Linked DNA regions of Homo sapiens. The protein of the gene in region 2 purifies or fractionates together with the protein of the main gene of each other region. This does not show direct contact. Each region holds a gene or a part of one and is shown on either strand. Other genes may lie near its edges.

Region 1 (3,745 bases), on a different chromosome or scaffold from region 2:
GTATGAAGTGGGGGAGTGACTCTTTATCACCTTTGTATTATTTTACTTTTTTTTTGATACTGGATCTTGTTTTGTTGCCCAGACTGGAGTGTAGTGGGTACAATCAAGGCTCACCGTATCTTTGACTTTCTGGGCTCGAGCTATCCTTCCACCTCAGCCTCTCGAGTATCTGGACTACAGGCATGTGCCACCACACCTGGCTAATTTTTTTTATTTTTTGTGAGACAAGATCTCTGTATGTTGCCTAGGCTGGACTCGAACTCCCGGACACAGTGATCCTCCTGCCTTGGGTTCCCAAAGTACAAGGATTATAGGCATGAGCTACTGTGCCTGGCCTGTTTGACTTCTTATTTAAAAAAAAAAAAAAGTGTGCGTTTGTACATATGTATATCTGTGTGTATATGTGTGTGTGTATATATGTATGTATTTGTTGTTGTTAAAGAGTAAAACAAACAAAACCCATACATAATAAAGTAGAATCACAACAAAATGAAACAAGACAATATTTGTTGGATGTAACAGACCCTCCCTGGTACAAGAACACCTTTCTCAGCATTCTTGACAGGTGTTCATTCAGCCTTTATTTGAACACCAGTAATGAAGAGCTTACTGCTTCACAAGGCAGTATATTTCATTTTTGAACAATTGCGATTGCTAGAAATTATTTTTCCTGTTGAGTTGAAATCTGCATTACTATAACTTTCTCCTTTAGGTCTGAATACTGGCTTTTGGAGCTACTCATCAACCACATTCTTTCAATTCAATTTGAATTCACTAAAGTCAATACGTGAATTTGTGATAGTTGAAAATAACCTTTGCATCAAAAGAACTAACTTATTTTCTTTTTTATTTGTGTGCGACTGTAATTGTGTGGAACTCAGGAGATATTAAAGGCTATTCAGGATGTGACAATAAAGCGGGAAGAAACAAAGAAGAAGATAGAGAAAGAGAAGAAGGAGTTTTTGCAGAAGGAGCAGGATCTGAAAGCTGAAATTGAGAAGCTTTGTGAGAAGGGCAGAAGGTAACTGATGTTAAGAATAAAAACCCTGTGTGTATGTATATATGCATGAGGGGCCAGACCCGTTTGTATTTGTAGTTTCTTTCCCTTCGGTTTAATTTTTATTTGAAAAACAAGTGTACAAGTAAAAACTCTCCAATGACTTTAGCTTTTTCAGTATCAAACATTAGACTTAATAGAAAAAAGTTCAGAGATTTATTAAATACTTTGAAATAATAACAGTTAATTGTTGAGTCCCAAGTGTGGTCAAGAGTTCGATACGGGCTGGACGTAGCGGCTCACACCTATAATCCCAGCGCTTTGGGACACCAAGGTGGGAAGATTGCTTGAGGCCAGGAGTTTGAGACCAGCCTGAGCAACCTAGCAAGACCCCCTCTCTACAAAAAATATTAAAAAAAAATTAGCTGGTTGTGGTGGCACGTGGCTGTAGTCCTAGCTACTTGGGAGGCTGAGGTGGAAGAATCACTTGAGCCCAGGAGTTCCAGGCTGCAGTCAGCTGTGATTACGCCACTGCACTCCAGCTTGGGTGACAGAGCAAGACCTTGTCTCTTAAAAAAAAATTTTTTTTATATGAATCTAACACCGATCTCACTTTATAACCTGATATTTACAAGTTCAGACCATGGGACAGGCACAGTGGCTCACGCCTGTAATCCCAGCACCTTGGGAGGCCGAGGCAGGTGGATCACGAGGTCAGGAGATCGAGACCATCCTGGCCAATATGGTGAAACCCCATCTCTACTAAAATACACAAAATTAGCCAGGCGTGGCGGCGTGCACCTGTAGTCTCAGCTACTCGGGAAGCTGAGGCAGGGGAATCGCTTGAATCCAGGAGGCAGGAGGCGGAGGTTGCAGTGAGCTGAGATCGTGCCACTGGACTTCAGCCTGGCAACAGAGTGAGACCCTGTCTCAAAAAAAAAAAAAAACAAAACAAAAAAAAACAAAGTTCAGACCATGAGCATATTTTGAATGATTACATTTGTGTTATTCAGCATCCAAAGTAAATTTCAAACAGTAACATTGTAAGCTGTTTGTGAAAGAATTATTTAGAGGATTTGTGTCCTTTTCTGGGTACTGCAGAAAAAGCAAAGTGGGCATAGAATTTGGTCAGCTTCTCAATTTTCTAAGTTTCTTTTTTTTCTTTTTTTGAGACGGAGTCTTGCTCTGTTCCCCAGGCTGGAGTGCAGTGGCACGATCTCAGCTCACTGCAAGCTCCACCTCCCGGGTTCACGCCATTCTCCTGCCTCAGCCTCCTGAGTAGCTGGGACTACAGGCGCCCGCCACCATGCCTGGCTAACATTTTTGTATTTTTAGGAGAGACGGGGTTTCACCGTGTTAGCCAGGATGGTCTCGATCTCCTGACCTCATGATCCGCCTGCCTCGGCCTCCCAAAGTGCTGGGATTACAGGCATGAGCCACCGCGCCCAGCCAATTTTCTAAGTTTCTTAAAATGACCTGTTTGGAAATCATAATAGCTGTGAATACTCGGTTGATTTTATTTAAATTCTACCAAAATGTTTTTTGTTTATCAAAAAAATTTTGGCTTTTGCTAATGCGTCAGACTGCTGAGTTAGCAAGCTCATGTGCTGAATCATTTTCTGAGTCTCCAAGATAATAATTGTGAAGCTCAACATGAGGAATTGTGTTTGAGAGAGGGCTTGTAGACCAATCAGTTGTTCTGTTGAGAATCTAGTGATACTGAATGATTAGAAGGTGGGTCAGTTGTCTATAATGATAATTTTCCAGAAATTATGAGGAGTGTACCTGGAATAGAACATTATCCCAGCCACTGTTAGTGATCAAAGCAGTTGCTCCCACCCCATGACATGGTCTCTGCCATTGTCTTCACAATCTGTGTGAGGAAGATGACCATAGGCATGTAGCAACTTAACAGGAGATATTAAAGTGCAGAAACTGGGAAGATGAGTCTATAATGTTATTCTAAGCCCCGCAGAAAATTTCCTTTTGATGTGTGTTCTTTACATTCTTTTTTTTTTTGAGACAGTCTTGCTCTGTTGCCCAGGCTGGAGTGCAGTGGCGCAATCTCGGCTCATGCAAGCTCCACCTCCCGGGTTCAAGTGATTCTTTTGCCTCAGTCACCTGAGTATCTGGGATTACAGGCGAGTGCCATCATGCCCAGATAATTTTTTAAATTTTTTTATAGAGATGAGAATCTCACTCGTTGACCAGGCTAATCTCAAACTTCTGGCTTCAAGCGATCCACCTGCCTTGGCCTCCCAAAGTGCTGGGATTACAGGTGTGAGCTACCGTGCCCAGCCTTTTTTTAATTTTTAATTTTTATTGTTTTTTACCTTCAACAAACTCACTTTTACTCTTTACATTCTTTATGTAACTCTACTACCTTTTCCATCTGATTGAATTGCTACAGATGGTGATTGATACTAATAATTTTGGTGTTTGTGTTCTTGAAGATCCATTTTTTTTCTTTAAATGTATATGTCACGGTGTGAGAATAATGTTTTCTGCCATTCTTTCTGTTAAATGTGGGGTTCAGTTTTCCGGAAGCAGGGGGAATGTCTCTTGTAGGTATCTTTGTTCTAGCAGTGGTGTAGGTTCTGCTTAGCATTCCATCATTCATAGGAACCGGGACACATAGATTTTGGTCATTATATTATTCACCTTGGCCTGCCATAACAGAATACCACTGACTACGTGGCTTAAACAGCAGAATATTTTACAGTTCTTGGAGGCTGGAAATCCGACATA
Region 2 (3,170 bases):
GATTCCTAGAAATGGGGTTACTAAGTGAGAGAATGACTGTTGTTAAGAATTCCTGTACCGTGAAGCATCCCGTCGTGGCAATCACATTCCTACCGGCCTGGCTCAGCACAGCCTGTGTTGCCTCTATGGGCTGAATTTTAAAAGACACAATTTGCTTTCTTTTTACTATCAAGAAGTTCATGTTTATTGTGGAAAATTTAGTAAATGGAAAATGTAAGAAAAAAAAAAAAAAGTAAATTGCCCATGCCTAGCTTCCAACCCAAAATGACATCTTGGTATTCTGGAGGAATGAGCTATACACACTCTTTTATAACCTGCTTTAGTATTTTGATAAAGCTTTCTTTGCTTATCATTAGGTATTCTTCTGTTCCTGCATGCTGGTGTTTCGTTATGTGGACACTTGATTTATCTAACCCAGCCCATGACTGGCTGTGTGTCGTCACGTGGCGCTGTCAGGCAGGCATGTCCCCAGGAGGCCATGTTTTGTGTTAAGTACACAGTCTTAGGCTCTCCCTGCCACACTCACCCTGCCATATGTGTCCTTGTCTTGTAGCCGAATCTGTGACCTCTCTGCCATCCCAAAACAATGGAACTACCAGCCCTGACCCCTTTGAGTCTCAACCCCTGACTGTCGCCTCAAGCAAGCCCAGCAGTGCCCGGAAAACACCTGAGTCCTTCCTGGGCCCCAACGCGGCCCTGGTGAACCTGGACTCACTGGTGACCAGGCCTGCCCCACCAGCCCAGTCCCTCAACCCTTTCCTGGCACCAGGTAGGCTCTCATCCCAGGCTTCATCCATTGCCTGCTGTGCCTGGGAATGGGTGTGCAGCAGGCCTCTTGGGGGCTCTTCCCACTGTGTGACGGGGAAGGGGTGGGACTAGCTGGAATCTCTAGATGATTACGTATGCCCTCGCCAGTGCTGCATGGGGTGGGGTGTGGAAGCCGTTGTCAGTTATGTGGGGAGTGTATGGGTAGGAAATAGCTCCTCTCCTCTCAGTTGAGACTACCAAGCAGAAACTGTCCCTGACTTGGTGCCCCCCCAGTTGTGAGACCCTCGAGGGAATGTCAGTTCTAAGACAGGTGGAGTAGGGTGGGCTGCTGGGGGTGAGGAAGAGCCAGGGTTTGGCGTGTAGCATTCCTCTCTCGGGAAAAATGTAACTTAGCCCTTGGGTACAAGCCTTCCTCCAGGTCCCTTGCTTCCACTCCTGGTGCCAGAGTCTGCCCCCTGCCCTCAGGGCTCAATGTTGGCTGCCGGCCAAGCCCCCAGCTGTTCAATTGGGTATCCAGGGCCATTATGGCCTGGTCCCACCCTCCTCTTCCCTTCCTGTGTGCATGAAACCCTTGTGACATCCAGCCCCTTGGCGCCCCTCAGCCTGTAGAGCCCTTCCTTAAGCCCAGGCTGTTACACACTCAGTTTCCCCTGCCTGGAATGTCCTCCCTCCTCTTCCCTAATGAAAGCATCTTCCTCATCCTTTGACACCTAGCTCAGATGACTCCCTTCTAGGAAGTCCACCCAGCCCCCTTCCTCACGGGGTTTCCCCAAAGCCTTGGGCTTCCCCCAGGGCAGGAATGTGTCACCCTCAGGTGTTCAGCCCCAGGCTGGCCCCACCATGTAGGGATCTGAGGATCTTGGGCCACCGTCCCTGACAGTACCTTGCAGAGGAGAATTACCACTGAACTTACAGAGGCTGAGGTTGGGGACCCTTGGGCAGAGGTGAGGTGTGTGGAGTTACTGGGTCCTGGCCAACCCTGAGGTCCTGAGATGGGTGAGGACATGGCTGCCCCCAGGGGAGGTGGTTCCCTGGGTGGAACTAGATTAGTTTCCAGCCTCCTCAGCCAGCCAGGAGTCTGTGTCTGCCCCAGGAGGCCTTATGCCTCTTCTGCCCAGAGAGCCCTTGAAGGCCCTGCAGGAGCTCCAGTGGTCATCTGTGTCTGTCAGCTCTTGGTGGGCACCTGGCTGGAGGCCTGAGGCAGCTTTGTTGGCTGCACACCAGTCATGGTTCCTGGGGGCTGCAGCCAAGATGGAGGAGGTTTGGGCAACTCTGCTGGACATACAGGGCCATTCTCCAGGCCACACAGGGTAGGGCCAGGCTGCATGGGAGAGTTGGTGCCAGCAGCGCACACACTTTTGCAAAGAAAAGGCTTTCTGGTATGAGGTAAATTCTGGAGACACTGGGAAAGACAAAGCTGCATCAACTTCTTGACTGCAGGATTTCTAGCCTTCGCGGTGTCATATGTGGATCCCTGGGTGCATTGTGGGCACTGCCACATGAGCCACACACTGCCAGTCCCATGTCCCTTTCAGCAAACAAAATGAGGGAGCAGTGGTAGCTGATGGCTGGTGAAGGTGTCCTGGGTGCCAGCACTGCAGAGGAGCCAGGGTGCCCCGAGATGGGTGTGTTCCTGGCATGGCCTTGTTCAGCTTTGTGACGCTGGACAAATCACTTGGCTTCTCACAGCCTCAATCTCCTCATCCTTAAAGTGCAGATTCATGCAGTCAGCAGATATTTGCTAGTGTCTGCCATGGACTCGGCCGGCACTGTCACGGGCTCTGAGGGCACAGCAGGGACCAGAACACCCGCATGCAGTCCCTGACCTGGGAGCTCAGAAAGCCACACCCTGACGGCTCAGCCTCTGCCCCTCCTTCTGTCTCCCCAGGTGCTCCCGCCACCTCGGCCCCTGTTAACCCTTTCCAGGTGAACCAGCCCCAGCCGCTGACACTGAACCAGCTTCGGGGGAGCCCAGTCCTGGGGACCAGCACATCCTTTGGGCCTGGCCCAGGAGTGGAGTCCATGGCTGTGGCCTCGATGACCTCCGCGGCCCCACAGCCAGCTCTGGGGGCCACTGGTTCCTCTCTGACACCACTGGGCCCTGCAATGATGAACATGGTGGGCAGTGTGGGTATACCCCCATCAGCAGCCCAGGCCACTGGCACAACCAACCCTTTCCTTCTCTAGTGCCTGGGCCTGGGACCCACCCAGAGCACCTGTGCTGGAGGATGCCGAGCAGGGACTCTCGTCTGTGGGACGGGATCCAAGAGTTTGGGGATTAGGGGTATTAGGGCTTTTCAGCTCCAGCTTCCTGATGAAAGGGCTGTCTTTACAGCCCCAACCCTCAGACCCTCGCCTTCCAAGGCAGGCCCCTCAGCCTGGCCTGCTCTCACCACCTCCTC
Region 3 (3,745 bases), on a different chromosome or scaffold from region 2:
GTTAAGTCCCACCTATGCCACTCACTTGCTGGTAAACTTGGATGAATTCCTATATTTTTCTAATTCTAGGGTTCACCACAGTTTTTTTTTTTTAACCTCAAAGTGTAATGGTGATGATTAAATGATACAGTAAAGTCCTATTAAAACCTGTGACATAGTAAACACCCTTGTCTCACTCACTATGCCTTTTTGTCTCTGTCCCAGGTGGAAGAACTCCACTATTACTTTCCAGGAGCAGACAGACATTATCTGCTCATTAGGCTCAGCAGCTTGGTTCTAGTCTCAAAAGTCAACTGGGATCATGCTCACTGTGCCTAGAACAGAGAATGCAGAACATCAAGCCTAACACAGGACAGGATGTTGACATGCTGAGCAGCTTGTTGGGGGATCTCTAGGGAATTCGGATTCAATAGGTCTGAATGGGACCAGAGATTTTGAATTGTTAGAATCTAATATTTCTGTGAATTAAAAAGGGGCTCAGCCTAACTGTGAGCAATGTATTATCCAATGAGTGGCATGACAAGGAATGACAGGAAGACCCAGGACTGTCGACAGTTCTAGGCCTCTTCTCTCAAGGACGAAGGGCAGCCACTGCCCAGAACCATGGAGGGGGAATTGAAACCAATCCAAACTAGCACAAAAATGAATGTTTGGAGAGATCCCCTGCCCTGGATACATAATGTTCTCAGAGATAGAACAAACTTCCGAGATGATCCTGTGCACTCTACAGATGCAGCACATAGTGAATACAACTCTCGGGAACTTTCCAAGCACATGGAGGCCCATAAAACACCAACGCACCATAAATTTCCATGGTAAATCCTGCTGGGGGAATTCATTAACAGAAAAGTAGCAATCAAACACTGGAAAGGTAGGGCTTCAAAATTACCCACTCTGGAGATGTAGAAAGTGCCTAAAAATATGGTAGGTCCAGGAGCACCACACCAAGCATTTACATCTTTGAAATGGCCACATGGCACTTATTGGCCTGAAAGGAGAAACAGCCAGCAAAATATCCTGCTAGAGTTGGTGGGCAAAGGAAACAGGGGAGGGGTCCCTGAAGGCCCTTATGAATTTCTCAAAGTTTTTGTTCACCATTTTATCTTCAGAACCCTGCACGCTGATTGGCAAACACTATTACATTCATTAAGTATTTGTCAAATGCGTGAAAAAAACAGAGGGAGAGAAAGAGGGACAGAGACAGGAAGACAAAAAGAAATTATCTCAGGCGGGGCATGGTGGCTTACGCCTGTAATCCCAGCACTTTGGGAGGCCGAGGTGGGTGGATCACCTGAGGTCAGGAGTTCTAGACCAGCCTTGGCCAACAACATGGTGAAACCCCATCTCTACTAAAAATACAAAAATTGGCCAGGTGTGGTAGCGGGCGCCTGTAATCCCAGCTACTCGGGAGGCTGAGGCAGGAGAATCACTTGAACCCAGGAGGCAGAGGTTGCAGTGAGCCAAGATCATGCCACTGCACTCCAGCCTGGGCAACAAGGGCAAAACTGTATCTCAAAAAAAAAAGAAAAAAGAAAAAAAGAAATTATCTTTGCTCCTACAGACTAGGCAGGCTACTGAGTATAGTATGTCTCACCCAAAAGTGATGGAAACTGATTGCTACTACAGTAAAAGGAACATGAGCTTCTGAGTCAGGAATAACTGGATTCAGTCTCCAACTCTGAATGATCTTGGCCTAAGTTCTTGACTTCTTTCTTTGAGCCTCACCATTTCATCTTTAAAAAGGGTAACAACACCTATTTCACTTCCAAAATAGGCATGATACTTATGCTTACAAAGTTGTGGAAAAAAGATTACATGAGCTAATGGACTTAGGCAAAGTAGCTAGCACAATGGTCAGCACATGGTATGAGCCAAAATCCTCCTGGGCTACCCTAATTGTACTGCATAGTTCTTTCAGATGTCAAGCTGCAGAAATAATTCCAATTTAAGTTCACTGGATCTTCTAAGAAAGTATATTTTTATCCCAGCACTCTGGGAGGTCAAAGCAGGAGGATTGCTTGAACTCAGGGGTGTGAGACCAGCCTGGGCAACATGGCGAAACCCTGTCTCTACCAAAAATACAAAAAACTAGCCAGGCGTGGTGTTACACGCCTGCACTCCTAGCTACTTGGGAGGCTGGGGTGGGAGGATCACTTGGAGCCCAGGAAGTAGAGGTTGCAGTGAGCTGAGACTGTACCACTGCACTCTAGCCTAGGTGACAGAGCGAGACCCTGTCTCAAATAAATAAATAAACAAACATTTATTTAAATAATAAACTCACGTATATATTCTTTTTTAGTTAGCAAAGTAATTTCACATTCTGACATAACAGTTCTGAAAAACAATGCTTACTGTTATCCATGTTTAATAAATGAAAAAACTGGCCAGGCATGGTGGCTCATGCCTGTAATACCAGCACTTTGGGAGGCCAAGCCAGAAGGATCACTTGAGGCCAGGATTTTGAGACCAGCCTGGGCAACATAGTGAGACTCCATCTACACAAAAATTTTAAAAAATAAAAAATTAGCTGGGCACGGTGGTACACATCTCTAGTCCTAGCCACTAGGGAGGCTGAGACAGGAAGATAGCTTACGCCTAGGACTTTGAGGCTGCGGTGAGCCATGATCATACTATTGCACTCCAGGCTGGGCAACGGAGCAAGATCCTGTCTCAAAAAAAGAGAGAGAAAATACTAAGACCACAAAGCCAACAAGAGGCAGACTGGGAATGAAACTATAGATTTTAACATTTTATTATAATTACTATGATTTTCTCAATCAAAAATTCAAATAGGAGATCTTATTATAGAATACTTGAACTCAGACTGTTCCAGAAATCTACTTATATTACGCTAAAACTTATAGCTAAAATCGAAACAAAATCCTGAAAGAAGTGATTTTTTAAAACAAAGCCTTTCCTCTGGATTTTATGCATCTATTCTTAATAGTCTCAAGTAGGAGAAGAGGAACATGTTTTAGAGTAAGGCTGACCTGAGTTTCAGTAGCATCTCTACCATCTATTAGCTTTGTGACCCTGGATATCCACTTTCTTCACCCCACTAAATTTCAATATCTTCATCTATGTAATGGGAAAGCAATACCTCCTCAAAAGTCTATGTGAAGTTCCTGGCCCTGAGAAGATGATTAGTAAATGATTAACTACCGTAAAAATCATGCCATGGTACCGACCACTTGGTCTGTAGGTTAGGTGACGGCTTGTTTCTTTCCTGCCTTCTCCAGCATCTGCATACCCCCTTTTCTGCATCTGTTCAATGGGGACACAAACCAGTCTCTATCGAACCTCACCAGGGAATGAAGATAACAAAAGAGCTGGCAGAGACATTATGCTAATACCAAATATTATTAAAACATTAATGAACTCTGGCAATTTCCCTGAATTTTGATAAATGGTGTTTATTATGCACTGCCAGCCTTTCGCACAGTCTGGGCTCTCAAATATTAACTAGATAATAACACCAATCATTCTCCTAAAAGACCAAGGTACAGAGGAATAAGAAGTGAATCTAGACAATTGCAGCTAACACCTGCCTCCAAAAAAAAATCAGAATCTCTGTACAAACAGAGAGCATCAGGACAGACCCCAGAGACCACAGTGACCACCAGCAAGCTCAGATCAACCCCACAGCCTGTGCAGAACCCTACTTTGATAAGACAGTGGAGTGTCTTGGTGTTGACAGGTCATTGATTATGACAGCTGTCTACCACCTCCTTGCTCTTCAGTGTAA
Region 4 (3,745 bases), on a different chromosome or scaffold from region 2:
TTTAAAGCCTTAATCTACCCCTGGAAATAGATCTACAAGTTGTTGGAGAGAATATGAGCTACCTGAAACATGTAGATAATGCAGATAAACATGTACAATGAAAATATAAGTATGCTGAAGTATGTTGATATTAAAACAATCCAGCATGAAAATAAAATGCTATTTTAACTAACCTTCTTTTCCCCTCTTTCCAGAATAGTTGTAATGTCTTCATCTGTCAACTCACTCTCTTTAGAAGCAAAAACATGGGTGGCTCCATGCCGTATCATTTGTAACATTTCCTCTTTTGCCAGCTTGTTAGACTGTTGGTCAATGAGTCTTCCTAATGATAAAAATTGAAATTGTACATATTCAATCAATCATATTCCAAAGAAGGCATAATCATTCTAATCAGACATTATCACATTTAACCACACATAAAGCTTTAAAGAACAAAAAATTAGTGAGCATTAAGGTTATTTGTTTAATAAACCCTACAAGTTTTTCTTCTAGCATACTTTCTATTTCTATATAAATTCCCTTCTGTAAAACTCAGTTAAAACCCAGAAGGACAGAAACTTTTTTTCATGTTCAAACTCTGTTTTCAGATCAAACTTCTCTATATGAAAAGGTACCCTCTAATATGTTTTCAAAAATTTAAAAGTAGCCATTTTATCTGCTAAATAATCTCAGGTACTTCAAAAAGCATGCTACTGACATTCAAGAATAAGCTAGTGATGTTCAACTACTCCATATATCAAATGCCAGGGTTTCAATTCAGAAGATTTCAATTAGCATTTTTTGTTCGTTTGTTTGTTTGTTTGTTTGTTTTTGAGACAGTGTCTTGCTCTGTCGCCCAAGGCGGAGTGCAGTGGCGCGATCTCGGCTCACTGCAACCTCCACCTCCCAGGTTCAAGCAATTCTCCTGCCTCAGCCTCCTGAGTAGCTGGGACTACTGGTGCACGCCACCACACCCGGCTAATTTTTTGTATTTTTAGTAGAGACAGGGATTCACCATGTTGGCCAGGCTGGTCTCAAACTCCTGATCTCAGGTGATCCACCCGCCTCGGCCTCCCAAAGTGCTGGGATTACAGGCATGACCTACCTCACCCAGCCTCAATTAGCATTTTTAAATTTTTTCCTTTTATTTTTAGGTGATACATAACAATTGTACAGACTCATGGGATACACAGTGATGTTTCAATTTTTCCTCTAAGTTTTCAAATTTTGGTCAACTTTTATTAAAAGTAATCTCCTTTGAAGAAAACTACATGTGTTTTACAAAAAACACCTAATTAAGTTTCTATGTATAAATACCTTGTTGTATAACAATTGAATCGAGTCTCAGTTTTATCTCAGCTCTTTCTACAATCCTCTCTTCAACAGTGTTGTCAGTGATGAGACGGAATACACGTACTGGTTTCTTCTGACCAATACGATGTGCTCGATCCTAGTAGAAAGAGTTCTAATGTAAGATATTGGATATTCTGGATAAAATTTAGAGCCATCATATGCTATAAAATTCTAAAAATAAAATTAGTTATTTTTCTCTAGATCTGACACTTTGGAAAAGAGCATGATGAATATTGAGAATATCTAAAGACCACTGGGAACAAAGAAATCTGCAAATATTATATTGTACCATTAATGGGAAACTTCCAGGACAAAGGGCAAAGCACCTGTAAGATGAATAAAAGAGGGAGCTGAAAGTTTCTGGATTGAGTTACTAAGTAACTTTAAGCCACTAAATATAAACATCTTCGAAACTAGCAAGGAATTTTATTAAGTAGTTAGGGTTGCTATGGTGGCAAAAGTCTGCTTTATTTCATCATCAGGCACTTCTTTCTGCTTACTGAGGGATATGCAGTAAAGAGTTATAAAAATTAATGGGATATTACTATCCTTACTATTCAGTAGCCTAGGACTGGTCCTATGGTTTATAGTTGGTACAGGTGACAGGTGGCGAACTTCTAGTGGTATAAAACCATCTAGGGAGAGTATTTTTAAAACACAGAAGCTGCTAGAGCAAATAGGTAAAGGGAGGAGGGTGGTAGAGAAAAAAAAAATGTAAGTTCAAAACAGGCCTTGTACTAAATATAAAAACACTAGAGCCTAGTAACAAAGTTTCAACACAGCACATTTTTCAAACAGAATGCAATCCCCTGCACATATTTACATTAAACCTGAACCAGCAAATCCTGAAAGATGGGATGCACACTAAGACTTCTACGGAAATGAAGTGCTATCACTATTAGATTTTCCAGTTCAGTAACACTGTAACTTACTGGGGCTTACTCCTAGTTAGTCATATCAAACAGGTAGTTCAATACCATCGTAATGCAATAATAATTACGCCAAAGCATATTGATTTTGGAATGTCCCAGTGGTCAATCCCTTTCAATTCTCTATTATAAAAGGAAAGCCTTCTAAGTTATACCTCATTGGCATATGACTTTTCATTGCTCCCAAAAAGACACTTATCCATAGCTATATATTCAAAACCTAAGAAGTTATTTTGCATCTTTTTACTTCTAAATTATATTTCTTTATCTGAAAATGTGAGTCACATTGAGAGAAGTTGTAGCTCTAGTTCAATAAATGACACCAAAATATCAAAGGGGTTACCTGTAGTGTCATGATGAAAGGTCAGAGAAACTTTGCTCCCTAAAAAAAAATGTTTTTAAGTGTAGAATAGCTTTTGCATGGTATCATTATTAAGTAGCAAGTGTTTTTCTGGAATATATTCCTTTCTTACCTTTTTGCCTTCTCTCCCAAATTGTTTTTTATGAAAGTTAAAATCCTACCTCTCTTAATTTCAGTACTAAGGATTTTAATATATTTAGTTGTTGAACAGAATAATAACAAGAGATTGTTTTTTAATCCTTTTCATTAAAACAAATTTATGTGTCCTCTTCAATCTGTAGGAATGGGAAAAAACTGACATTTCTATTTCATGAAAAAAACCAAAATCAACACATAAATGCTATAAGTTGGATCTGGGGTGTGTTTGTTGTTCGCTTTCATTTCTTTTGTTTTTGCAATTAGCATAGCAACTGTGTTTTCCAGGATAATCTACTGTAACTTCTATAAAATCTCTCAAAAATTGTTACCTTTTTATCATAAATGACCTTTATGTGTGTAAATAGCAATAGTATTCAGAGCTATGATAAATTTCTGACACCATTAAAGATTACTAACCATAGCTTGTAGATCAACCTGTGGGTTCCAGTCTGAATCATATAGTATAACCACATCAGCACTTGCCAGGTTAATTCCGAGACCTCCAGCCCTGGTACTTAGCATAAAGATGAATTTGCTACTATTAGGAGCATTAAAAGCCTCTATTGCTTCCTTTATTTTTTATTGATAAAGGGATAGAAGAAAAAGAGAAAAATAAAATTAGACCATCAGGGTCCTTAAGAAACAAATAAAAACATTTAAAATACATATAGAAAATCTTCACACACTTTATAATATTCCTTATAAATATACTTTATAATATTCTTCCATCTTCAAAAATATGTAAGCATCTATACATATACTGTACTGTGTGAATTTCTGTAGAAAGTATATTATATAAATGAAGTTCCTAATCTTTAAAAGCTTACATCGATAGATACAAATTTAGAACAATTACATACACAAATTTAACTAAGCAAGTAATAATTCATTTACATTATTTAAAAACAATAATAATGAAAACGTTTTGAGTGAGAGCTGAAATATATCTAGGAGGTAAAATATCAGAAATCTCAACTTCATTTCC

What was found.
Region 1: the proteins of EPN2 (region 2) and RNF214 fractionate together in Homo sapiens (co-fractionation; one large-scale study listed by BioGRID). This does not show direct contact.
Region 3: the proteins of EPN2 (region 2) and MB21D2 fractionate together in Homo sapiens (co-fractionation; one large-scale study listed by BioGRID). This does not show direct contact.
Region 4: the proteins of EPN2 (region 2) and SMARCA1 purify together in Homo sapiens (affinity purification with mass spectrometry; one large-scale study listed by BioGRID and IntAct). This does not show direct contact.

What each region holds. Positions count from the first base shown.
Region 1 is NC_000011.10:117,245,928-117,249,672, forward strand, and holds part of RNF214 (RING finger protein 214), read left to right. Parts: intron 1-881; coding exon 882-1,021; intron 1,022-3,745.
Region 2 is NC_000017.11:19,331,300-19,334,469, forward strand, and holds part of EPN2 (epsin-2), read left to right. Parts: intron 1-553; coding exon 554-769; intron 770-2,656; coding exon 2,657-2,955; 3' UTR 2,956-3,170. UniProt on the Homo sapiens protein: Plays a role in the formation of clathrin-coated invaginations and endocytosis.
Region 3 is NC_000003.12:192,911,160-192,914,904, forward strand, and holds part of MB21D2 (nucleotidyltransferase MB21D2), read right to left. Parts: intron 1-3,745. UniProt on the Homo sapiens protein: Probable nucleotidyltransferase that catalyzes the formation of cyclic dinucleotide second messenger in response to some unknown stimulus.
Region 4 is NC_000023.11:129,488,764-129,492,508, forward strand, and holds part of SMARCA1 (SWI/SNF-related matrix-associated actin-dependent regulator of chromatin subfamily A member 1), read right to left. Parts: intron 3,331-3,745; coding exon 3,178-3,330; intron 1,430-3,177; coding exon 1,297-1,429; intron 323-1,296; coding exon 174-322; intron 1-173.